7 linked regions of the Homo sapiens genome follow. The protein of the gene in region 2 purifies or fractionates together with the protein of the main gene of each other region. This does not show direct contact. Each region holds a gene or a part of one and is shown on either strand. Other genes may lie near its edges. The genes, in order: GNA11, SLC44A1, LARGE1, AGPAT3, NRP2, ENPEP and CR2.

Region 1 (3,500 bases), on a different chromosome or scaffold from region 2:
CTCCCGCTGGTTTGGGTGCTGTGTCCCTGTCCTGCCCCCCCACCCCCGGCAGCCGGCCTGAGCACCCACCGCTGTGTTGCAGCTACCTGACCGACGTTGACCGCATCGCCACCTTGGGCTACCTGCCCACCCAGCAGGACGTGCTGCGGGTCCGCGTGCCCACCACCGGCATCATCGAGTACCCTTTCGACCTGGAGAACATCATCTTCCGGTACCGCCCGGGCCACAGCAGGCGGGGAGGGGGCACTGAGAGGCTCATTTGCCCGGTGTGCCGGCTCATGCCTGCGCACCCAGTGCTTTGGGAGGCCAAGGCGGGAGGATCGCCTGAGTCCAGGAGTTTGAGACCACCCTGGGCAACATAGCCAGACCTCATATCTAAAAAAAATTTTAAAAATTAGCTGGGCGTGGTTGTGTGCACCTGTGGTCCCAGCTACTCAGGAGGCTGAGGCAGGAGGATCGCTCAAGCCCAGGAGGTTGAGGCTGAAGTGAGCCATGATGGCACCACTGGACTCCAGCCTGGGCGACAGAGGGAGACCCTGTTTCGTCTTATTAAACAAAAGAAAGCCCATTGGTCTTCATCCTCAGTGTGTGTTTGACCAGGTCAGGGGATAAGATTTATCTCTAAGTATGTGTGAGCCAGGGCCACACAGGGAAGGAGCTGTGGGGGTGTGGGGGGCGTGGCCACATCCATCCAGACCGGCAGCCGAAGAGACCTGGCAGGGAGGACATTTGACAGGGCCTCCAGGACGGGCCGGGGGCCTGGTTGGAGCCAGCATGGGGCTGGGGTCTGGAGTGCTGGCCGGAGCAGGGGGTGCCGCATGGTGCGGGAGGGGTCATAGGGACTGAGGCTGCCAGGGGAGGGGGCTCATGGGGACCGAGGCTGTGAGGGGAGGAGGGGTCATAGGGACCGAGGCTGTGAGGGGAGGGGGGGGGTCACGGGGACCGAGGCTGTGAGTGGAGGAGGGGTCATAGGGACTGAGTGGGGAGGAGGGGTCATAGGGACTGAGGCTGTGAGGGGAGGAGGGGTCATAGGGGCCGAGGCTGTCAGGGAAGAGGGGTCATGGGGACCGAGGCTGTGAGGGGAGGAGGGGTCGTGGGGACCGAGGCTTTGAGGGGAGGAGGGGTCATAGGGACTGAGTGGGGAGGAGGGCTCCAGGCTGGGGTGGAGGAGCTGGGTGGTGTGGGGTGGATTCTGTTCTTCACGGGCTGCCCCTGCGGATCCTGCTGGGCCTCCGGGGCTCCAGGTCCACTGTGGCTGGGGGCCGGCCAGCAGAGCCGGGTTCTCCCTGGGGACCCTCAGTGGGTCCTGTGTCTGGTAGGCTGCTCAGCTGGCTGGACTCTGCTGTCCCTGGGAACGTGGACCCTGCCTGCCTGTCTCCTGGCCCCATATAACATCTCCAGCGCTGAGGTCCCGGCTTTATGCGTGCCTGTCCTGGGCTGCTGGTGTCGGGCGTGAGACTCCCACCGCAGGCCTTATTCCCGCCCAGTGCTGGAGGCCAGAAGGCTGAGATGCAGGTGTGGGCCGGGCCAGGTCCTTCTGAGGCTGAGGGGATCTGCCCAGGCCTCACTCGGCTCCTAGTGGCGGCCGCATCCTTGGCATCCTTGGCATCCTTGGCATCCTTGGCTTGTGGCCGGGTTGCCTCATCCCTGCCCCCATCCTCATGCAGCGTCCTCCCCGCCTGCGCCTTTGCCTCTGTTCTCTTATAACCTGTCCTTGGCCAGGGCCACCCTACCTCTGTGTGACGTTATCCTAACCAGTGACATCCGCACAGACCCTGTTTCCAGATCAGAGCCGTCCCCGGGTTCTGGTGTTCGTGCGTGTGGGGCGCTAGACGGCTCTGTCCTGGAGGGCCTCGCGGTGGCTCCGGTTGCGGGTGCCTTCTCCTGCAGTGCAAGCTCGCCCTGGCACTGGCCCTCATGAGGGAATGACGCCTCCCTGCCAGGGTGTCCCCACCCAGCTGGTGCACTGCCGAGGCCATTGTGAGGGTTCCGGGAAGTCTGTGGGGTTTTCCTCGAGAGCCCTGCCTTGAGACCCACCCCAGGGCTGGGGGTGCCACCCCCTGCCATCTGCCTGTTCTCCCCACCCGTCCTCCCAGCTCGGCCTCCCAGCGCAGGCAGGGAGGATGCGGCGTGAAGATGGAGGCAGGGATGGAGCAATGTGGCCACAAGCCAAGGAATGCCAAGCTCTGGGATGGTTCCCGGGGACCCGAGCAGGCGCTGGGCCCTCAGAAGCTGCGGTGTCCTCTCTGGACATGGGCGATGGTGTATATTGTTACGAGAATTCAAGTTTTTCTTCTTTTTTATTCACACGGGGCCCATGACCCCAGGATACAGCTGAGGCGAGCCAGGCATAGGCCAGGTTGTGGCATGAATGTCCCCTCACAGCCCCACGCTGGCCTCTTAACAGCGCAGGCCTCTGTGTCCTCTGTCAGAAATGTCCTGTCCCCTCCCTGAGCTGAGCTCAGGCTGGGTGTGTCACCCCCTCTCCACCATCTTCCAGGCCCTTCCCAGCTCCAGCTGTGCCCTTTTCTTTTTTTTGAGACGGAGTCTTGCTCTGTCGCCCAGGCTGGAGTGCAGCTGTGCAATCTGGGCTCACTGCAAGCTCCGCCTCCCGGGTTCACGCCATTCTCCTGCCTCAGCCTCCCGAGTAGCTGGGACTATAGACGCCCGCCACCACGCCTGGCTAATTTTTTGTACTTTTTAGTAGAGATGTGGTTTCACCATGTTAGCCAGGATGGTCTCGACCTCCTGACCTCGTGATCCGCCTGCCTCGGCCTCCCAAAGTGCTGGGATTACAGGCGTGAGCCACCGCGCCCGGCCCGGCTGTGCCCTCTGTGCCGGGTGCAGACCCCCGTCCTGAGCCTACTCCTCTGCCACCATTGTTTCTCTGCCAGCCGCCTCTGTCCACCACACGCTGGCAGAGGGCCGGCCAGGTGCTGTGGGATGCAGCTGGAGGCCTTGAAGGCCGGTGGGATCGTCCCAGTGCGTGAGGAGAGGCTCCTGCTCCCTCAGGTGGGGACAAGACACGGGGGGACCCGGATCCCAGCCCTGCCGGCCGCCGCAGGCGTGCAGGAGAGGCCTCGCGCTCCAGACGGGCTGTGGCCTGGTGTCGGCACACCCACTGTCCTCCCGCCTGGCCACAGCTGCTGGTGCGGGCCCTCTTGTCCCTTAGAGTCACCTGGCACATCTGTCATCCACCGGTGCCTGCTGGACTCCCCCGCAGACCAGACCAGGTGGATTTCACCACTCACATGCCCAAAGCAGCCCCGCTCTCCTCGGCAGAGTTGCAGGGACCCCGGCCTTCCCTGGGGCCTGGGGCCAGGGCCTGAGGGGCACTCTCCGCTTCTGCCTTTGTATTCTTTCAAGGAGACCAAAGTGCCTTTTCTCGTTATAGAAAACTTAGAAAAGTCACAAGTAGAAAGAGGCAAACGTCCCGTAAGGAACGCACGCCCGCAGACATCGTCTGAGCTGATTTTCTTTCTCCCGCCTGTGCGTGGCCT
Region 2 (3,500 bases):
AGAAAGACAGAAAAGGGGGAAAAGCTTGGTTTATATTTTAAGATTTCATATGTCTTGTTAAGTTTTGGGCTTAGAATCGATTTGCTGAACAATTAGGACCTCCAAGCAGTAGAAGGAAGGAAGCCTTCCTCATTTCTCCATGTTGCCATAGGGTTGGCAGAATCTCCACTGCTGCCCTCCTCAGCTTTTGTGAAATAAGAGGGATACAGAAAGGTGTGGAGGGCAGGCATGGAACCTGATGGGAAGATTACTGGTGTGCCTCCATCTGCCCAAGCAATCATGTCTAGGTGATGCAAACTTAAAATTCAGAGCTATGTGGGTACTAGAGTGATCTGTGCTCTGGGATTCTAAACATTTAAATTTGATTTTATAATTATTCATGCTATTAAGTAAGAGTAACACCAAAATAGGCACTGGAAAGGGTTACAGAGGAAAGGTTTTATATCTAAATATTTTATTGAGGCTTTAACTTAGGTTGAATATGCGATTAGTTTGAATATACATATAGCCTCCCTGCCTCCCTCCAAAAATAAACCTATTTCCTTTACTCTTAATTAAATGAGCTTATTTTATATCATATATATATATATTTTTTTTTTTTTTTTTTTTTTTGAGATGGAGTCTCGCTCTGTCGCCCAGGCTGGAATGCAATGGCGCCATCTTGGCTCACTGCAACCTCTGCCTCCCAGGTTCAAGCAATTCTCCTGCTTCAGCCTCCCAAGTAACTCGGATTATAGGCACACGCCGCCATGCCCAGCTAATTTTTTTTTTTTTTTTTTTTTGGTATTTTAGTAGAGACAGGGTTTCACCGTTTTGCCCAGGCTGGTCTCAAACTGCTGAGCTCAGGCAATCCACCTGCCTCGGCCTCCCAAAGTGCTAGGATTACAGACATGAGCCACCATGCCTAGCCTACTTAAATGAACTTATTTTATAGCATATATTTTAAAGTTGAAAACCTACAAATCAGGGGTATCCAATCTTTTGGCTTCCCCAGGCCATCCTGGAAGAAGAATTGTCTTGGGCCACATATAAAATACATTAAGGATAGCTGATGGGCTTAAAAAAAAAAAGGCAAAAAATCTCATGTTTTAATAAAGTTTACGAATTTGTGTTGAAAGCCTTCCTAAGCCATATGCGGCCCACAGGCAGCAAGTTGGACAAACTTGCTATAAATCAAATCATTTACTAAAGTGTAAAGAAGACAGAAAGGAAAGTCCTTACCTCACACTTTTGAACATTATATGCAGTCAGGGGACACATTGTTTAAAATTATTTAAGGATGCAGACAATTATATAATATTTGAAAATAAACATGCTATTTAAAAAAATACGTGTTTAAATTAGGAAGTAATTAGACCAATATATGATAGAGGCATCTGTTTCTATGCTATAGTGACAATATCCATGTGAAAAGCAGCTCAAGGTTCTCTTACACTCATTAAGCTGCTTTTTTCAAATAAAAGTGGAGTAGAGAGATATATTTGTGTACATATACATATATAATATCAACTACCAGAAATAATTTATCCATCTCACAATTAAACTGGGAGAAGACTAGATTGTCTTACTGAGTGGGAATGTGGGTATTGATGAAAACAGCCTTGTTTGCTACTGAAAAATAGCTTAAGAAACAAAGAAAGTACAACCTAGGCAACAGAAGAAAAAGTCAGCCAAGGGAAAAGGACAGCAATGTAAGCAGAACCATACTTTTAAAAGGGGGAGTATGAATTTTAGCAAGTTGAAAGGAATTGCTATGATCACCTTCCAAAATGATAAAAATCAAACCGTCAGTTCAAGTGTACACCAAAATGTTCAGTCTGATGAAAGCCAAACACTGACAGTTAAAAAGGAAACAAGAGCAACAGCAGTTTTACCTTAGGGAAAAAACCATCATCCCCTACCCGCCCCTGCCGAGCACTGACGAGGATGCTGTTCCTTTCAGCTTACTTTTATAGAAGGTGGTCTCAGTTGTGACAAGAATTCTGCCATCCAAGTGATGGGTAAGCACACAAACAGAAAGAGCAGCATGTCCTGCGTGATACAGATAACAAAAGCTTCTCCTGAAGAAGTGCAGTCAGTGAAGACAGAGAGAGAGAGGAAGTGAAAGTGAAATTCTTGGAGGGCGGCCACCTCCTCATCTCCACCTACCATCGGCTTTAGCTCTCTGGAATCAGCGACGCCTCCCTTACCAGCTTCTTTCATTGCTTTCCTACTGTTTTCCACAAACTCCTGCAAAATATGGACCATATTGAATAAATTCTTGGGTCCTTTCAGATTTGTTAGTAGATGAATTCTAAAGAACATCTACATTTTTGACTCAATCTTGGTAAATGGATGGCTTAAAAACATAGCAATAAATAATGTTTAGTATCACACATGAGAGTTGCTAAATTTGTAGAAATGGACTCTGCAATTCGCTGATTAAAAAAATCTTCTTTCCATCCATTCATTGTGACAATCTTACTAAGGCTCCAAGAGATAATGTTAGTTCTACCTGGAAGAGAAAATACCTAACATTTTTAAGAGGCTATTTTCTCATACTCAGAATATCATTTTATTTGTTGTTGTTGTTTTTTTCTATATCAAGGTTAAATGAAACAACAAGAACACGTTACTCCATAAGCCTCCACTTTTAAATAACCATAGAAGGTAAAAGAACACATTGATACTGCTAAGCACATAATGCTTTTTTTCTTAACCAAACCATAAACAAACTACTCTTTTTAAAAAAAGTGTCAATCTGACCATGACATTACTTCATGAAGCAGGAAGACAGGGTGTATCAACCAGAACCTATGGTTAGTAGTAGTCGAAATGGGAATGTGCCCAAAGGGAACATTTCTATTCTGTCAACGTTTACGGGGAACTTCTTCATTAAATATCCTCACCATTCCTACAGAGAAAACTGAAGGGTGGAAAACAGTTATTTTTTACTCTGCTTTTGATCAGTGACTTAAAAAACAGTAACACTCTTCTAAATGCTTTAGTCACAAAAGAGATACAATAATCATGATCAAATTCCATTAAGAAAATAACCAGTTAGAATTAGTTTAGACATTAAGAAAATGTCCAGAATTTAGCTGATGTTGCCAGAAAAAGAGAAAATCAGTGCCAAATAGGTCAGCTAAATCATTTGGAATTCTTGCTATTGAAAAGAAAAAAAAAATCTAGGCTGGGCATGGAGGCTCACACCTGTAATCCCAGCATTTTGGAAGGCCGAGGCAGGCAGATCACCTGAGGACAGGAGTTCAAGACCGGCCTGGCCAACATGGTAAAACCCCATCTCTACTAAAAATACAAAAATTAGCCAGGAGTGGTGGCACATGCATGTAATCCCAGCTATTTGGGAGGCTGAGGGAGAACTGCTTGAACCTGGGAGGTAGAGGTTGCAGAGCCAAGACCATGCCACTGCACTGCAGTCTGGGTGACAAAGCAAGACTCCGTCTCAAAAAGAAAAAAAAAAAAATCTAGCTTATTTATTAATACACTTATTTTAGATT
Region 3 (3,500 bases), on a different chromosome or scaffold from region 2:
CTTGTCTCCAAGGATCCCTTAAGCTCTAGGATCTAGGCCTCTCCCCCGTCGACCATACCAGGTGGATGCTCCGTTCTTCTCACCTGCACATCCAGCTCCATGATATGAGCCACTTTGTTCCAGCCAAAGCCTACAAACCTCCGGTCGTACTCCGGGCAGTCACGTCTCACAACAACATACGGCTCAAAATCGGCCTCCCACTCAACCCGGTAAGGCGTGGTGGCGGTCCGCCACTTGGCGAAGTTTGTGGGTGCGTGGCCTTTCGTCCAGACGTGGTACCTGAGACACACGGAGAAAAGCCATTGGGTGTAGGGAAGGAAGCCAAGCTCTCCAAATGCAGCCGATGTGGAGGAAGAAGGGGTGTACACTGATGTAGTCCTCGGGTGAGTTGAACTGTCTCCCTCCCAAAAGCTATGTTGAAGTCCTAACCCCCAGTACCTGTGAATGGGACCTATTTGGAATCAGGATCTTTGCAGATATAATGAGGTTATCATGAGATCACAGTGGATTGGGGTGGCACTAATCCAATATTTGTTGTCCTTATAAGAAGGGGAAAATTTAGACACAGAGACACACAGCAAGAATACCATGTATAGACATTGGGAGAGATTGGATGACGGGTGCATCTATAAATCAAAGATTGCTAAACACTGCTGGCAATCACCAGACGGAGGCCTAGGACCTCAGGGAAGAAGCATGGACCTGCTGACAGCTTGATCTTGGACTTCCGGCCTCCAGAATTGTGAGAGAATAAATTTCTATTATGTTAAGCCATCCAGTTTGTAGTATTTTGCTGCAGCAGCTGCAGGAAACCCTAATCCCATCTGCTATCTGCACATTTCACTAACGAGGAGATTCTCACTATGAAAAGGAACTCCTGGAGGGCTCCATGTCATTTCTCAGGAATTGACTGCAGGTGAGCTTGTGTAGTGATTGCTGCCAGACTGTGGTAGGAGTATCAGACGGTCCCCCATGACTCTCACCCTGTCCAATGCTCTCCCCTTGAGGCAGAACCTGTGAGTATGTATGTGATCACTCCTGGGATTATGGTACATTATATGGCAGAAGGGATTGTTCTAGATATAAATAAGGTTACTCACCACTTTACTTTGTGTGAAAATGGGAGATGATTGAATCATGTGACCCTTTAGACCTGGGTCTGGAAGAAAGCAAGGAGCTATGTTGGGAGCTGCCTATGGGGGCCATGTGGCAAATTAACTAGACTCTAGGAGAGCAGTCCCTGGCCAAAAGCCAGCAGGAAAATGGGACCTTAGGCCTAGGAACGAAAGGAGAGAAATTCTGCTAACCACCAGTGATCTGGGAAGAGGAGAAATGCAGGTCTGCTGACTCCTTGATTTCAGCCCAGTGAGATCCCAAGCAGAGAATCCAGTCATTCCATGCCTGAATCTCTGATCCCTAGAGACTGTGAGATCACAAATTTGTTTCAAGCTGCTATGTTTGTGGTAATTTGTTATACAGTAGTAGCAAATGAATACAATCATATAACCACAATAAGAAGCAGCTAATATTAGTTAACCACTTACTGTGTACTGGGACTATTTTAAATCTCTCTCTCTCACACACACACACACACACACACACACACACACACGCAGATATTGTTTTAAATTCTTATAACTTACCAAATGTCAAAGTACAAGTAGTCAGTGGTGGAGTTGTGATTCAAACCCGGGAAGCCTTGCTCAAAGGCCAGGAGCCTCCTTAAGCACTTCACCTCTCTTTTTTTATTTTTTTATTTTTTGGGATGGAGTCTCGCTCTGTCTCCAGGCTGGAGTGCAGTGGCACGATCTTGGCTCACTGCAACCTCTGCCTCCCCGGTTCAAGCGATTCTCCTGCCTCAGCCTCCCAAGTGGCTAGGACTACAGGCACGCATCACCACGCCTGGCTAATTTTTGTATTTTTAGTAGACACGGGGTTTCACCATGTTGGCCAGGATGGTCTCCATCTCTTGACCTCATGATCCGCCCGTCTTGGCCTCCCACAGTGCTGGGATTACAGGCATGAGCCACCACGGCCGGCTGGGTCACCTCTCTTATATGTCCCTGTCCCCCACACTTCCTGGCCTGTTGAACGAGTACTCAACAATTGTGCACTAAACTGAATGAATGAATGAGTAACCTAACAACATGAGAGGCACCTGAGACAGGTCCATGTGTGAGATGGCAATATGCCTCTAGAAGCTACAGAGAGACGGCAGGAAGCTGGGCATCTAGTGAAGGACTAGACAGGGCCCAAGAGAAGAGTTAGGAAGAGTATCCAGAGCTGGAAAGAAAAGCTTCATGAAATGAAAACAAGACAGAAGGGTGGGAACCCAAGAGCATAGCTGCAGGGAGAGAGGAAGTGGAAGTCTGGGTTCCATCTCATCCTGTGGGCAGTCTCTCCAAAGCAAGGGAGGCGCTAAGTGAGACTGAGTGTTCCGTGTGGCCAATGGGACACTTTCTGGCAGGGAATGCAACTGCTTCCTTCTTTTGCTTTTCTACCACTGAGGCTGGACTCCCCCCAAACCCTCAGGGAACTGGCCAGTGCAGCTGAATGGGCACTGGCCAATGGGTGGGCTTTGATCAAGTTGTGCTGTTGGGTGAGACAGCCAGGCTAGGGGAGGGCAGGAACTTGAACTTCAGCTCCATCAACACAGCAACTTCCATCAAAACCAAAGCCACTTAAATGGAAGAAAAATGAAAGGTGAAGCAATGCCATTTTCATGGAGTGTGGAAAAGGGATATTGCGGGAGATGTCAATTTCGGGCATGATCCAACAATTAGGCCCAGAAGCAGTTGCTTTTCCATTTGTGAACTTGCTGAATGGGCAGTCTTAACACCTGATGCCTTCAACAGAACTGGCACAGCACAGCTGATGGCCGTGAACTTGTATGAGGTTTTAAAGCACAATGGAGCCATCAGGCCAGGGTTCAAATCCCACCTCTGCCACTTAGGAGCTGAATGCCTTGCAGAACAAAATGCTTTAATTAGCCGTTAATTTCCTTTTGTGTCAACTGGGGAAAAGAATACCTATCTGGTTGAACTGCCAAAGAGCTTAAGTGAGAAAATATAAAGAGTCTGGCGCAGTATTGACATCTAAGAGGAATTCAATAAATGCTAGTTTTATAACAAAGTGGTTAAAAGCAATGGTTCTGGAGGCTGCCTGCCTGGGTTCCAATTCTGTCATTCAACAGGTATGGGTACATTAACTACTTGGCACCTTTGTTTCCTTCTCTTGGCAAAACGGACACAGCAATATCTACTTCATAGATTTATGATGATTATGTGACTTAATTCACATACAGTACTCAGAGTAGTTTCTGATATATGGTAACTCCTCAAAAAAAAAAAAAAAAAAAAAGAGAAAGAGAAAATTCTCTTTATTATTTCTCCTTGTTTGCTTCCCAGATATGATGTCAATTCCTGGTGGTCTTGCTCTCAGTGATATTGACAGCCATGTTATTGGTCATCCACCTTTAGAATCTAAACTCTCAGAAAATT
Region 4 (3,500 bases), on a different chromosome or scaffold from region 2:
TTCTTTTGGGTGATGTCTTTTTCTCACCTATTCCTTATATATAGTTTCCATATTATATATTTCCTTATAGATTCAGGATGTTCATCTTTGGCTGTAATGTGTGCATTATATATTTTTCCCAGTTGGGTTTTATCTTTTCACTTTTTTTGTTTTGGTGAAAAGATAGTTTTAATGTAATGTATAATTTTATCCATCCTTCTTTTCTAGGTAGTGCCTTTTGCATGTTACTTTAAGTTCTTCCCAATTCTTGGGTCACAAATGTATTCTGTATTTTTCTGTAGAAGTTGTAAAGTTTGCTTTCTCTGCTTAAGCCCTTTATCTCTCTAGAGTTGACTGTGCAGGTCTTCCGAGGTGTCTTTTGATAAAGCACCGTGGTATTTCACATTCCACCTGACACTCTGTGCTTACATTTATTCCCAGGTGCCCTTATTATTGTTCTTGCTTTTGTAAATGGTGTTTTTTTTTTTTTTTCTTTTGAGACAAAATCTTGCTCTGTCACCCAGGCTGGAGTGCAGTGGCAGGATCTCAGTTCACTGCAACCTCTGCCTCCCGGGTTCAAGTGATTTTCCTGCTTCAGCCTCCCGAGTAGCTGAGATTACAGGCATACGCCACCATGCCTAGCTAATTTTTGTATTTTTAGTAGAGACAGGGTTTCACCATGTTGGCCAGGCTGGTCTCGAACTCCTGACCTCAAGTGATCCACCCACCTCGGCCTCCCAAAGTGTTGGAATTACAGGCGTGAGCCACCGCGCCGGCCGTAAATGGTGTTTTTTATTTTTATTGATTTCTAAGTCTTTGCTGGTGTTCTGTAGAAATGCAGTTGACTTTTGGGTATTGATTTAACAGCTGATCACCTTGCCATTGCTTAAAATTTATTTGTAGATTTTGGGGATTTTCTCAGTAGACATTCACGTCATGTGGGAGTGGTGAAGACTCTGTTTCTTCCTTATATCTTTCGTATTTTTCCTTCCTGTTTTGCTGCCTGGGCCAGGCCCTCCTGAGCAGGGCTGTATGGAAGTGTGACAGGCCATCCTTGTCCTGTTCCTGATTTTAGGGAAATGCTTCTACCATGCTGCCTTCCGGTGTGGGTACAAACAGTGGCCGTTTAGTTCTGAATCGTCCCACTCTGCCTCCTTGAAGCAGAGGAGGCCTGGTGTGAGAAATACAAACAAAGTGACCCAAAAGCAAGGAGCTGGAGAGATGGAAGATCCACTGTCATGGGTCACCGGGAAGACGCAGAAACAAAACCACAGAGAGCTGCGGCCTCCCCCTGCCGGGACGGCGAAACTTAAAAGACTGTGGGGACAAGTGCTGGAGAAGATGTGGGGGCAGACAGAGCACTGGTGCCAGCGTGGCTGCTTTGGGAATGGCAGGAGCTGCAGGGAGATGGCATCGAGTGGCGGGTGCACCTGCCGTGTGCTTCCCGGGGGACATGCTGAGGTGCTCATAGTGGCATGGGTGTTGGAGTCAGACCCCGGGAGCTCTCTCAATGCCTGTCTCCAAATAAAATGAAAAATAACCTCGTGCTACATTCGCCATGGAAAGGGGAAGGAAGGAGCTCCTCCAGGCCGCAACATGTGTGCGCCTCCGGAGGATAACGCTGGGTGGAAGGAGTGAGCCGCAGAAGTGTATGCAGCACCTGACTTCATCAAGGTAAAGCACGCGCACCAGCAAAACCCATGTGCCCTGAGGACTCCGGCTCTAGTACCTGGAAGGAGAACACAGGGCTTCTGCATCCTCTGCCTCCCGGGTTCAAGCGATTCTCCTGCCTCAGCCTCCCGAGTAGCTGGGATTACAGGCGCGCACCACCACGCCTGGCTAATTTTTGCATTTTCAGTAGAGACGGGGTTTCACCATGTTGGCCAGGCTGGTCTCGAACTCCTGACCTCAGGTGATCCTCCCACCTTGGCCTTCTAAAATGCTGGGATTACAGGCGTGAGCCACTGCGCCCAGCCCAAGTTGTCAGTTTCTTGATACAAAGGTCAGAATATTTTCTTAATTTTTAAATCTCTACTATATCTGACAGTAAATCACCCTTTTCATTCCTAAAATGGTTTTACCTTTCTTTTCTAGATTCATCTCACAGAGGCTCATCTTTTTTATTAGTGTTCACAAAGAACCAGCTATCAGTCTTACTCATTTTCTCCACTGTGTCTTTGTTTCCGTATCACTAATTTCTGCTCATTGTCAGGATTTCCTTCTACACTCTTTGGGTTTATTCTGGTGTTCTCTTTCTAGGTTACTGAATTGAAACATTTTCTTTTCTATTTTCTCTAAGCTTAGTTTCTTAATTTTCAACTTTCTGTCATAAGTATTTTATTATTATTTTTTGAGACAGAGTCTCCCTCTGTCACGCAGGCTGGCGTGATCTCGGCTCACTGCAACCTCCGCCTCCCGGATTCAAGTGGTTCTCCTGCCTCAGCCACCTGAGTAGCTGGGATTATAGGCGTGTGCCACCATGCCTGGCTAACTATTGTATTTTTAGTAGAGACAGGGTTTCACCATGTTGGCCAGGCTGGTCTTGAACTCCTGACCTCAGGCAATCCGCCCACCTCGGCTTCCCCGAGTGCTGGGATTACAGGCATGAGCCACCACGCCCGGTCCTGTCATAAGCATTTAAGTCTATGTAGCTTTCCTACTTAGTTCTGCTGTACTGTCGTCTTGTTTATTTTGATATGTAATATTTTCATTGTTCAGCATTTTACAATTTTATTATTCTTCCATGACCCATGAATGCATTTATGTCCAAAGGCATTGAGGATTTTAGGTTGTTTTTATTATGATTTCAGCTGAAAAGCCTCATGGGCAGAGGGATATAGTCTGTATAGCACTGAGTCTCTGGCATTTCTTTAAGGATTGAATTCTATTATGTATCTTCTGGCTTATAAAGTTGCGGTTAGGAAGCCAGCTGTCATTTCAATTGTCCTTCCTGTGTCAGTAGTAAGCTTTTTGTCTGGCTGCTTTTATAGTCTCTTTATTTCTGGTGTTTTTCAACTTGACTGTGGTCTTTCTAGCATGGATTTCTTTTTGTTTATCCTGTTTTGGATTCATTGTACTTTCTGAAGATAAAGTATCATGTCTTTCAGCAATTCTGGAAAATTTTCAGCCATTATTTTGTTCAATACAGTCATTCTGCGGTATCCACTAGGGATTGGTTCCAGAACCCACCATGGATACCAAAATTAGTGGATGCTTAAGTTCCTGATATAAAATGGTGTCGTATTTGTATATAACCTGTGCACATTCTCCCATATATGTATTTTTTTCTTTGTTTTTGAGATGGAGTCTCACTCAGTCGCCCAAGCTGGAGTGCAGTGGCACGATCTTGGCTCACTGTAACCTCCGCCTCCCAGGTTCAAGCAATTCTCCAGCCTCAGCCTCCTGAGTAACTGGAATTACAGGCGCCCACCACCACGCCTGGGGTAATTTTTGTATTTTTAGTAGAGAAGGGGTTTCACCATATTGGCCAGGCTGGTTTTGAACTCTGACCTCATGATCTG
Region 5 (3,500 bases), on a different chromosome or scaffold from region 2:
TGTACACCCTCACAGCCCTGACGGAAGGACAGGACAGAGGTTCCCAATCGGCCAACTCACTCTCTAGTGGCTCTTGGTGGACCAGGTAGTAACGCGCAGAGAAGCCATCCTTGGCCACCGCCATGTCCGTGTGAAAGGTCAGGGAGAGGATCCCCGTCGATGAACGAAGTTCAGAGGGTGTTTTGGTCCCACAGTACTTGCCAATCAGGGGGCCAACTGGACATTCAAGACAAAGAGAAGTCAGTGGAAATCAAAATGTCAAACTTGGTTTTCACTCCGTTTTCCCTTCCCCTCATTGCATTTCATTCAGTGGAGCACACTTTGTACATCTTGCCATAAAAACCAAAGATATGTTTCAAGAACAATGGCTAATATTTTTCCTGCACATCAAAAAGCACTTTCACTTTTTCATTAAAAAGGTACAGGCCACTTTCACTGGCTTCATTCTGTTCTCAGTGGCCTGGAAGATGAGCTGGAAAGGTATCATTACAATGTCTGTTCTACAGAGGAAGAAACTGAAGTTTGGAGAGCGCATGTGATTTCTTTATTCTTACTGCTAGGAAATAGCAGAGCTGGGCCTACAACCCAAGTTTTCTGACTAAGTCTTGTGATTTACCCAGGAAATGAAATTGCTCTTTTTGCTTAGTCATCAAGTCTCCTTTATATTAGAAAAAACTTACAATGACTACAAAAGTGAAAGATTTGTTCCTCTCCAATACTAATTAGACCCAAGATCCATGTTGGTCTTCACCTGCGAAGTACTGGTGGCTGTTAGCCTTGGGTGATGTACCTTTTCAATATTTATGACTATATTAATGACAATTTTAAAATTATAGTAATAATGATGATGATAGCAGCTAACTTAACACAGATAAGGCACAGATAGGGTAAGGGATTTGTCTAAGGTTGCACAGCTGGGGAGTAGCAGAGCCGGGAGTTAAGCCCGGCCAGTCTGGCTCTGGAGTCCTTCTGTTTTGTCACAGGGGTTAGCCACTGAGCCACCTTCTATCCTGACAATTTGGAGTAGAAATGAACACTTTAAGTTTTCTCATCCTTTCCAAGTATCTATTTAGTCTCCTATCCTTTTCTAAAGAAATATTTCCAAGAAAGTAGACAGCCTTCCTGTAATTTCTCTCAAGCTATCCTTAGTGAAGGGGAAGAAGAGAAAGTCACCATGGGTCATATAAGAACTCATAGGAGCTTTGAAGTCTTTGTTCTTCCTCTTTATCATCACTAAAGCAATTAACAGGCAAAGGCCAAGCTACTGAGGAATGCCTCATGACATCACTCACCATGTGGAATGCCATCCCAGATGTCCAGCCAATCGTACTTGCAGTCCCCCTCTCCCACCTGCAAAGGGTCATGCTCCAGGTCAAAGATCAGGAACTGCAGGATGATCTCCATCTTGGGTTTGGCCAGGATGGTAAAGGTGCAGTCCAAGTTGTGTGGATACTTCTCAGGAAACCCAGGAGATTCGATGGTCCCGTTGGGGCTTGTGAAGTTTTTTGAGCAATCTTCAGAGCCTGTATGTAAAAGAGAACTGTAGCACTAAGAAGAAGATGCCTTTCTTTGTGGCCTCTGTCACATGGGTTATTTAAATGTTTGGCCCCAAATCCCCCTGCTCTTGAGGTTTTTGTTGCTACTGGAGTGGCCCTTGAAGCAACATACTCTTCACATGCACGTTTCAAGCCCTCATAAATTAGGGAGGCACAGCTGGCTTGCTCTACATAATTATTAGAGTGAGAGCAGCAATTGAGGAATTGGGGAGTGGGGTGGAGGTACAGAGAAGTGTGTGTGTGTGTGTGTGTGTGTGTGTGTGTGTGTGTGTATGAGAGAGAGAGAGAGAGAGAGAGAGGGATTCTCTTGAAAAGAGGAACAGAGTCTTCTTTCTCAATTACTCAGCTGCTCACTCCAGAAATGTAAGTTATTTCAATCCTTAAGGAAGCCTTGCTGATTGCCAGCAGGGAAAACAATGTTACCCCTTATTTGTTGCTGACCTCAACACTAGCCCCTATTGTACCACAGCCAACGAAGTGCCCCCTTCTCCCTCCAAGATCCAAGGTGCCTCAGGGGAGGGGCAAAGGGGAGCTTGGGTCTCATTCATGTCATGACTATATTAAAACGAGCTGCTCTGTAGTGGTCGGACAATTAACAATCGATGTTTTTAGCTGGTGGATCACAGCAGGCCGTTGGGGATGTTAAAGGCCGCTCCGGCAACAAGTTTGGAAAAATGCAGCAGTGCATTGACATTTGGAAGGCTTCTGGCTCCTTTGTGGTGTGGATGGCCTTGTTTCTCTCCTGAGCTCTTGCGTCTGCTTTCTTGGGACGCATGGAGGCATCCTGATTAAATGCGGCACACATTCGCATCCTGGTGCGAGCTTGGATGGCAGCAGGAGCAGGAACAGGAGCTCATAAGAGGATTACAGCCACCCTATCTCTTAATGCCTCTAGGTGGAGTCATATTAAAAGGGTCCTTGTGCTTTAACCAGCCACCATTTGCCAGGGCAGCACCACAGATGGGTCCCGGGAGCACTGCAACCCAGACCCATGGACCCACGAAGCACGAGCTCATGCACATTCACGCAATGAATGAAAGTGCTGGACAATTAGAATTGATTTCACTCGTTATGTTCAGATTTTAAAAGAAGAAAAGGAAGCAGGATTTTTGAGGAGGATAATAGACACTCTAAGCATAAAAAACACAACCAACCAGAAATACTCGATAAACTGGGTGTTTACTGTCAGGAAGTGTCCTCTGGGGCTCACACTGAAATATAACTAGGTGATGTCAATACACTGATCTGAGCCTGCAGCGATGCCTTTATCCGCAGCTCCTGTAGGGGGCCTCTCATTGAGTCTCTTTATTGATGACAGCATTCTGGAAAGAGGCAAATGTCTGATTTGGAAGAAGTGCCATGCAAATAAATGCGGATGGAGGAGTTGCAACTTTCTTCAGCACCAGACAGAAAATTCCAGTATCTCCTACCTATCCATCCATCACTTCCTACTTTCCACCTTGTGCTGTGCTTTGGCAGGGTAGGGACTAGGAACACACGAGGGCAAGGGCTAACCTTTGCATGGGTTCTGTGGAGGCTCTAAGCAGCGAATCTCAGAGGCTCTGCACCCCATCATTCATATGCATGGCAGCAGCAGGTCAGGCCGAGTTTTCAATGGGCAGCTAGTCCTGGAGGGATGAGCTGGGGCTGCCTCCCCCAGCTTTGTTTATGATTGGGCTTCGGACTCCTGAGGGCCTCCTCAATGGCCCGGGATGAGGCAATTCAGCAAAGCCAAGCCAGCTGGCGGGTCTTCAGGGGGCCAAGAGGAATTTTGAAAAGGTTAGAGTTTATGGCTGCTGTGCAGCATTCTTCATGCGGGCCACTCAGCTGAGCCTCACACATGGTTGTGAGGAAATTAACTCTCTATTCACTTCTTGCTTGAGAGCTAGAAAGAGCATCCTGACATGCCCTCTTAGAGCTTGCTCTATTGTCATTCCCTTAGAA
Region 6 (3,500 bases), on a different chromosome or scaffold from region 2:
GTTTATATTTTCAGGATTGAAAAAAATTGCAATGTGATAAAAATTAAATACATTGTTTTTCTAAGGACAAGCGCAAAGTTCTCTGAATTAGTAGGAAAACAGATTATAACAGGGGCTGCTGAGTATAATAATTGGGATACTACTGATATGTAGTAAATTGTTACTTATTGTACATAATACTTTTATTTCAGGAATACTTCCAAGGTCAAGTGAAGCCTATTGCAGATTCTCTGGGATGGAATGATGCTGGAGACCATGTCACAAAGTTATTCTCACTTTTTAACAACTAAAATTCATTTAACATTTGTTTTTTGTTTTAAGACTTGTTGAAAAGTGCTTAAGGCCCTGGATTTGTGTTTGTTTGTTTTTTAAGGTTACTCCGTTCCTCCGTGTTAGGGTTTGCGTGCAAGATGGGAGACAGAGAAGCCTTGAACAATGCTTCCTCGTTATTTGAGCAGTGGCTAAATGGGACTGTAAGGTGATTACTCACATTGTTATGCTTAGAAGACACATTTGAGAAAAGAGTAGTTGAAATCTCTGAAACACTGTTTCTTCTTCTAGCCTTCCCGTAAATCTCAGGCTTCTGGTGTATCGGTATGGGATGCAGAACTCTGGCAATGAGATTTCATGGAACTACACTCTTGAGCAATACCAGAAAACTTCATTAGCTCAAGAAAAAGAAAAACTGCTGTATGGATTAGCATCAGTGAAGAACGTTACTCTTTTGTCAAGGTAAGTTGGGCTTTTATTTCACATATATAAATAGTATTTAATAGTTTATGTGTCACAGTCTCTTTAAGAGTCTGATTAAAGTATGATGTTTTGTTTCCAAAAAAATCCATTAAAAGTTATTTTCCCTGCAAGAAACAAAATATCCATGTAAGACTGGCCTAAACAATAAGGAAATGTAATCTCATATGAACACATTCTGGAGGTAGGTAGCTTCCAGTTGTGTGCAGCGGCTCAACATTTTCACCCAGGACCCAGGCTCTTCTCTTTCTGATTTTCAATGATCGACATGTTGGATGTCTCATGACTTCCAGAGCTTGAAACATTTTGTTTTTACACAAACATGTGTAATGGAGGTAGGACAGGAGCAAAAGAGTTTCCTGACAAGGCTCTGTCTCTTATGCCAACAGGACAATTGTCTCCAATTCTCCTCATAATCCAGAACTGGGTCACCCTTCATCATTGTGAGTCACACTCTGGGTCTGCTACTTGATCCTTTGCTCACTAGGGTGAACTTGAATTCCTTTGGCTGATTTGAGCCAATTAGAATTATCTGGGACTGGGGTAGAAGTCTGTTTTACCTAAGATCAAGGATATCTAATGGTATCAGAGCAAAACTGGGCTCTGTGAGTAGAGAAAGAGGAGTGTCTGCCGCAAATGCATTTACACTTTACTCAGAAGGCACAAAGCTCATCTATGACTCATTTCCCACTCTGCATTTATACTTGAAATCAACAGGCTTCTTCCTTAATTCATTTTTTGCTTAGTTATAGTGTCTGAGTTATTTACTTCATTTATTTAACCAACACTTATGGTGTCCTTTCTATGTATAGATATATAGATTGTGGAAATAAAAATGAATAAAACATGAATAAAAATGACATCTATCCTTGAGATACTTACAGCTTCATGGGAGAGGCAGAATGTAAACAGTAAATTACAATGCAATACCAATTTAAAAGGACGACCAGAAGCAGTTTGCTTTTACCAGGTAGAGCCAATAATATACCTTCAGCCTCTTTCCTCAGGGCTATATATTAATTCTCCTGCTCTCTGCCATGACAGTTCATCAAGAACTCGATCATCTTGGCTGGGCACAGTGGCTCATGCCTATAATCCCAGCACTTTGGGAGGCCGAGGCAGGAGGTTTTCTTGAGCCCAGGAGTTCAAGACCAACCTGGGCAACATAGTGAGACCTCGTATCTATTTAAAAAAAAAAAAAAAAAAAGAACTTGATCATTTTCACATTTCACAAAACATCACTAATTCATTACTTTGATGGCATTGTGCTGATTGTATCTGGTAAGAAAATTAGCAAGAACTTTAGATGCCTTAGTAAGAACCTTGTGAACTAGGGGATGAAATAAATTCAGGATCCCACGACTTTAGTGCAATTTCTGGAAGTTCAATAGTTTAAAGCATATCACAACATTCCCTCCAAAGGAAAAGAAATTTGTTGCACCTTGACTGACATGCCACAGAAAAAGATTATTTTAGTGGACTTAGTAAACTTTTTTTAAATTTTGGAAGCAACATATCTCACATTTGAGTGTGTTACTTTAACCATTTACAGAGTCTTCCAGTTTCAAATAATGACTGGAGTAAAAGAAGATTCTGCAGCAAGTCCAGGCTGCAGTACGAGCTTCCTTGGAATCCCTTTCTTATTTGAAACATGTGATTGATATGTTGTATTTTCATAAAAGTAGATTTACCCACACAACTGCAAGTGCAAAGAAAATGTAGGACCTTGATTTTCTATCTGATTATTCCCAAGAGTTCTCACACTGCTGAGTGATGAGCCAGTGAGAGGGAGAACAACTGATGTTGACTATCTTTGTCTGCCAGTCTAGTTTTTAAATGAGTTGTTAAACTAGAATTCTCATTGAAATAGTCTCTTGGAGTAAATGTTCAGTCTTCTAGAGTTCCTTCCCTTCCTCATGGTCCTTCTGCACAGGGAGACATGCCACCCTTGTGGTGATGGAGAAAGAGACCTCTGATTTTTGCTGCTTTGGCCTTAAGGTGTTTACCTATTTTGGTCTGGGACAGAGTCTGCTGAGTTTTCATTGATCATATTTTACCTTCTGGTGCACTATCTGTCATCCAGAGATGAAAGCAGTGGTCCCAGTCACTTGCTTCTGTTCATGAAGTACCTGTGCTGTATGTATGGTATTTTTGTTTTCCCATCAGGTCTTCCAGTGTCCCTGCCTCTTATTGCTAGGCTGAAGAAACTGATAGCTTCCCATAAACAGGACCCACAAGTCGAAGGAACCAGGATCATTACCTTAAACTCAGTCATATATTCACCTCACCTTGCCTACGATGTACTGTCACTCTCCCATGCCATTTTGGCATAGCACAAAAGTACATGCTGAACTATAGACCTGTTCTTAAGGGGTTGTGTTTTCCAGTTTCACATGTGGCATGGACTTTATTTAAGCTTGAGTTTTCTCCAGTCTCATTTAGGGTAAATTTCTACTTCAAGTATGCTAAGGGTCTTGATATATTAATAAAAGCATACATAATTTAGAAATACCTTTTCTGTTTGACAAAGGCTGACTCTCAAAGGCTCACAACTCAAGTTGAACAGTGATCCCTTTGTTGTAGTTATTATCTCAATATCTTCCTAAAGATATAAATGAATTAAGCCAATGGGTAGGATGCCATGGGGCAGCAAGACTTGAGTAACATGAAAATACATCTAATCTATCAGTAGTAGACATCTATTTTTGAGGTTCCCTTGTCACAGTGAACAAAATGTGTGCTGACCTTTT
Region 7 (3,500 bases), on a different chromosome or scaffold from region 2:
GAGAAAATTCTCAGAAAGTATAATATTCTCTCTTTCCCCACCTACTCCTTAAAAAGGTATTCCTTGTAAGTCACTCCCAGCCATCCCCCATGGGACTTTGACAGCAGCAGCAGGGAGAGGGGTTTGCTATGAAATCATCAGTGCCATATTGGATGTAATAGGGAAAAGCTGTTTGACCTCTTGGATGAGAAGTCAATGCATTGCACCAGCAAAGATAATCAAGTTGATGTCTGGAGCTCTGGAGCAACCCTCCTCTTCAGTGTATTACTCTTACTTGAATGCTCAATTATAGAAGTTGAAAATGGAGTTGTGGAATCTGGATTATGTTCATTTTTTTAAAATGATACATGATATTTAAGTGTAAGCTTGGTTTTACCCTGAAAGGCAGCAATGTAATATGGTGTCAACTAAACAGCAAACAGAATCCTCTACTGCCAAAGTGCTTCAGGGGTGAGTTGGGCTGAAACTTCAGGATCTAGAAATAAAACAAGGTTTTTCTGGGAAATAGATATATGGTACCTATGGAAAGAGCAGAAGGAAGATAGTATATGTGGTTGAGTTTTCTAGTTAAAGAGTTTTTTATTGTTATTGTTTGTTTTGTGTTTCTGTTTTTGTTTTTTTGAGATGGAGTCTCGCTCAGTCGCCCAGGCTGGAGTGCAATGGCGTGATCTTGGCTCACTGCAACCTCCACCTCCTGGGTTCAAGCGATTCTCCTGTCTCAGCCTCCCGAGTAGCTGGGATTACAGGCATCCAACATCATGCCTGGCTAATTTTTGTATTTTTGTAGAGATGGGGTTTCACCATGTTGACCAGGCTGGTCTTGAACTCCTGACCTCAGGTGATCCACCTGCCTCAGCCTCCCAAAGTGCTGGGATTACAGACGTGAACCACCACACCCTGCCTAGTTAAAGAGTTTAAAAGTAAACTTTGAAAGTAATATCTAAATGTTGCAGATGTAGGACTTTTTCTTCTTTTGTATTTTGGGGCAGTGCTAGATCTGTGTTATTGTAGGGGAAATTAAAAGATGCTTTTTTAAAAAAGCAGATAGCACCAAAGTCAATGATTAGAGATTTTTTCATACATATATATATATATAATTATCACATCTTATCCATAGGTGTGCTTTGAACATATATATGCCACTCTTCTCTGTCTTCTGGAATGCAGACCAAAGATGTTAAATTGATTCAGTTGAGTATATATTATACTGCAGATTCTATATGTATAAAGACAACAGTTCTCGAAAGTTACCCTTACTGAAACCAAGTATAGCACTGATGTGATGAAACAGTTTGGCTGTATCTTCTTATGTCAGTTTTCACTGAAGACCTCCTCTTGGAGCCAAAGGGAAGTTAACTGAAAGTTCTAGAGGTTGGCAATTTTCCCTTTATTCTGAGACTCCCTCAGAAAAGGCGTGCATAACAAAGTAAATGTAAACAATATCCTTCATGGTTATTAGGACAAGTAAATGAAGAATATGAGGCCATTATTCAAAACCTCTGTTCACTTCCTGTGGCTTTTTCAAAGTGTTCCAGCCTCAAGTCAGGACAAATCACCTGTACTGAGGCTCTAGCATCTTCAGCAGCAGGACCAAAAGTGGTCATCTCAGCCTGTACCCCCAGTTGTGTGTTTGAAGCAGCCATTGAATAATTAGTATGTTCCAGGTATTGTACTTTCTCTGTTCATGTACTTTTAGCACTGGATTCTCACTATACCTTATGAAGTAGTTTGCGTTATACTATAGACTAAGAAACTGAAGCTTAAAGAGAGTAAGACTTGCCTGAGGTCACACAGCTATTGAATGACCGTGGGGAGTTGAAACTAGGTCCACTGAGCTCAAATTTCCCTAATCCATGGTACCTCCCCACATGTAACTATCATGCCACTAATATGTTATTTTCATGTGCTGAATTTGCCTTTTGTTTCATTATTAAAATTGATTAGACTCAGAACTTTTGGATATATTCTTTTCATTATTATTGTTTGGTCAAGATGATTTATGTTGATCTGTTTGCTGAGGATCAAGAAAAAGGTAAGAATTTAGGAGTTTGGGAGTAAGCAGGGAATAAATAAACTATACATATTTCTAAGTCTGTTTCTGAAAAAGTTATGTGATCTATATTTGGATATTTTACCTACATTTGAATATTTTCTCACCATGATCAGTATGCCTACCAAGTTCCTTTTCTACTTTTCAGGGATTTCTTGTGGCTCTCCTCCGCCTATCCTAAATGGCCGGATTAGTTATTATTCTACCCCCATTGCTGTTGGTACCGTGATAAGGTACAGTTGTTCAGGTACCTTCCGCCTCATTGGAGAAAAAAGTCTATTATGCATAACTAAAGACAAAGTGGATGGAACCTGGGATAAACCTGCTCCTAAATGTGAATATTTCAATAAATATTCTTCTTGCCCTGAGCCCATAGTACCAGGAGGATACAAAATTAGAGGCTCTACACCCTACAGACATGGTGATTCTGTGACATTTGCCTGTAAAACCAACTTCTCCATGAACGGAAACAAGTCTGTTTGGTGTCAAGCAAATAATATGTGGGGGCCGACACGACTACCAACCTGTGTAAGTGGTGAGTATGAAAAGAAAGCTGGGTTGGGAGGTTGGGGTCTTGCCTTTCTGTGCAGACCACGTTTTGTACCCTCCTGAAGGACAAACAGTGTGAACATGTAATGATGAGGGTGGAAGAAGGAAACAAGGGAAAAGGTGAAAGTTATGGCTTCTTCGTGGAGGCATATAACTGCTCGTTCAAAAAACATCAATTGAGCAAAGGAGTTTAAAGTACATGGAAAAATGTAATTAAACACACCTAATAATTGAGTAGGGTAAGTTTTGCAAGGATGGGGTCAGAGTTTGTTGGGGATGTGGGAATGGGGTGGTTTTCAACTGTATATCTGTGTTACTGTTAAAATGAGAAGAACGGTGGGATCTTATAGCAAAAATACACCCAATGGATTTGAAATTAATGTATAAGTAGCTGCTAACACAGTCTAGCACAGGTGATATCCTGCTCTCTGTGGTCTCTGTAAACATGTTTTGAAGTTATCCACTATTTCCCCAAGTCATCTTCTGAGCCATCACATTTCAAATAAATGCCTTTGAAAATAGGGACCTACTGTAAATTATTCATTCCTTCTCTTTTGGTTTGGTTTATGTTGCTGCTGAAATATAAATCTGAATTTGAATTCCACAATTACAAGAAATGGCAATATTTGACAAAAATTATACTATCAAATTAGGTATTTTCTTAATAAAGAACAATATTGACAAATTTTAAGCAGATTAAAGAGCTGACAAAACTGTTAAATTAGTATAAAATGGGATTCTGTTTATTGATTGATTGATTGATAAATAGCCTTGGAGGAAGGAGATCTTAACGATAGTTACAAAGGGCAATGGCTGCTGAAAACAGTTAAGCCTTTGTAACAATTTAGACAGACATATATGTATGGACATGGAAGGATATCGTATACATGTCGCTAAGTAG

The links.
Region 1: the proteins of SLC44A1 (region 2) and GNA11 purify together in Homo sapiens (affinity purification with mass spectrometry; one large-scale study listed by BioGRID and IntAct). This does not show direct contact.
Region 3: the proteins of SLC44A1 (region 2) and LARGE1 purify together in Homo sapiens (affinity purification with mass spectrometry; one large-scale study listed by BioGRID and IntAct). This does not show direct contact.
Region 4: the proteins of SLC44A1 (region 2) and AGPAT3 purify together in Homo sapiens (affinity purification with mass spectrometry; one large-scale study listed by BioGRID and IntAct). This does not show direct contact.
Region 5: the proteins of SLC44A1 (region 2) and NRP2 purify together in Homo sapiens (affinity purification with mass spectrometry; one large-scale study listed by BioGRID and IntAct). This does not show direct contact.
Region 6: the proteins of SLC44A1 (region 2) and ENPEP purify together in Homo sapiens (affinity purification with mass spectrometry; one large-scale study listed by BioGRID and IntAct). This does not show direct contact.
Region 7: the proteins of SLC44A1 (region 2) and CR2 purify together in Homo sapiens (affinity purification with mass spectrometry; one large-scale study listed by BioGRID and IntAct). This does not show direct contact.

The regions. Positions count from the first base shown.
Region 1 is NC_000019.10:3,114,862-3,118,361, forward strand, and holds part of GNA11 (guanine nucleotide-binding protein subunit alpha-11), read left to right. Parts: intron 1-82; coding exon 83-211; intron 212-3,500. UniProt on the Homo sapiens protein: Guanine nucleotide-binding proteins (G proteins) function as transducers downstream of G protein-coupled receptors (GPCRs) in numerous signaling cascades.
Region 2 is NC_000009.12:105,384,151-105,387,650, reverse strand, and holds part of SLC44A1 (choline transporter-like protein 1), read right to left. Parts: intron 2,230-3,500; coding exon 2,149-2,229; coding exon of another isoform or gene 1,939-2,148; intron 1-1,938.
Region 3 is NC_000022.11:33,276,977-33,280,476, forward strand, and holds part of LARGE1 (xylosyl- and glucuronyltransferase LARGE1), read right to left. Parts: intron 280-3,500; coding exon 84-279; intron 1-83. UniProt on the Homo sapiens protein: Bifunctional glycosyltransferase with both alpha-1,3-xylosyltransferase and beta-1,3-glucuronyltransferase activities involved in the maturation of alpha-dystroglycan (DAG1) by glycosylation leading to DAG1 binding to laminin G-like domain-containing extracellular proteins with high affinity.
Region 4 is NC_000021.9:43,871,723-43,875,222, forward strand, and holds part of AGPAT3 (1-acyl-sn-glycerol-3-phosphate acyltransferase gamma), read left to right. Parts: intron 1-3,500. UniProt on the Homo sapiens protein: Converts 1-acyl-sn-glycerol-3-phosphate (lysophosphatidic acid or LPA) into 1,2-diacyl-sn-glycerol-3-phosphate (phosphatidic acid or PA) by incorporating an acyl moiety at the sn-2 position of the glycerol backbone.
Region 5 is NC_000002.12:205,720,501-205,724,000, reverse strand, and holds part of NRP2 (neuropilin-2 isoform 2 precursor), read right to left. Parts: intron 1,524-3,500; coding exon 1,293-1,523; intron 217-1,292; coding exon 61-216; intron 1-60.
Region 6 is NC_000004.12:110,549,155-110,552,654, forward strand, and holds part of ENPEP (glutamyl aminopeptidase), read left to right. Parts: intron 1-191; coding exon 192-265; intron 266-373; coding exon 374-478; intron 479-561; coding exon 562-732; intron 733-3,500. UniProt on the Homo sapiens protein: Regulates central hypertension through its calcium-modulated preference to cleave N-terminal acidic residues from peptides such as angiotensin II.
Region 7 is NC_000001.11:207,464,328-207,467,827, forward strand, and holds part of CR2 (complement receptor type 2 isoform 1 precursor), read left to right. Parts: intron 1-2,198; coding exon 2,199-2,585; intron 2,586-3,500. UniProt on the Homo sapiens protein: Serves as a receptor for various ligands including complement component CD3d, HNRNPU OR IFNA1. When C3d is bound to antigens, attaches to C3d on B-cell surface and thereby facilitates the recognition and uptake of antigens by B-cells.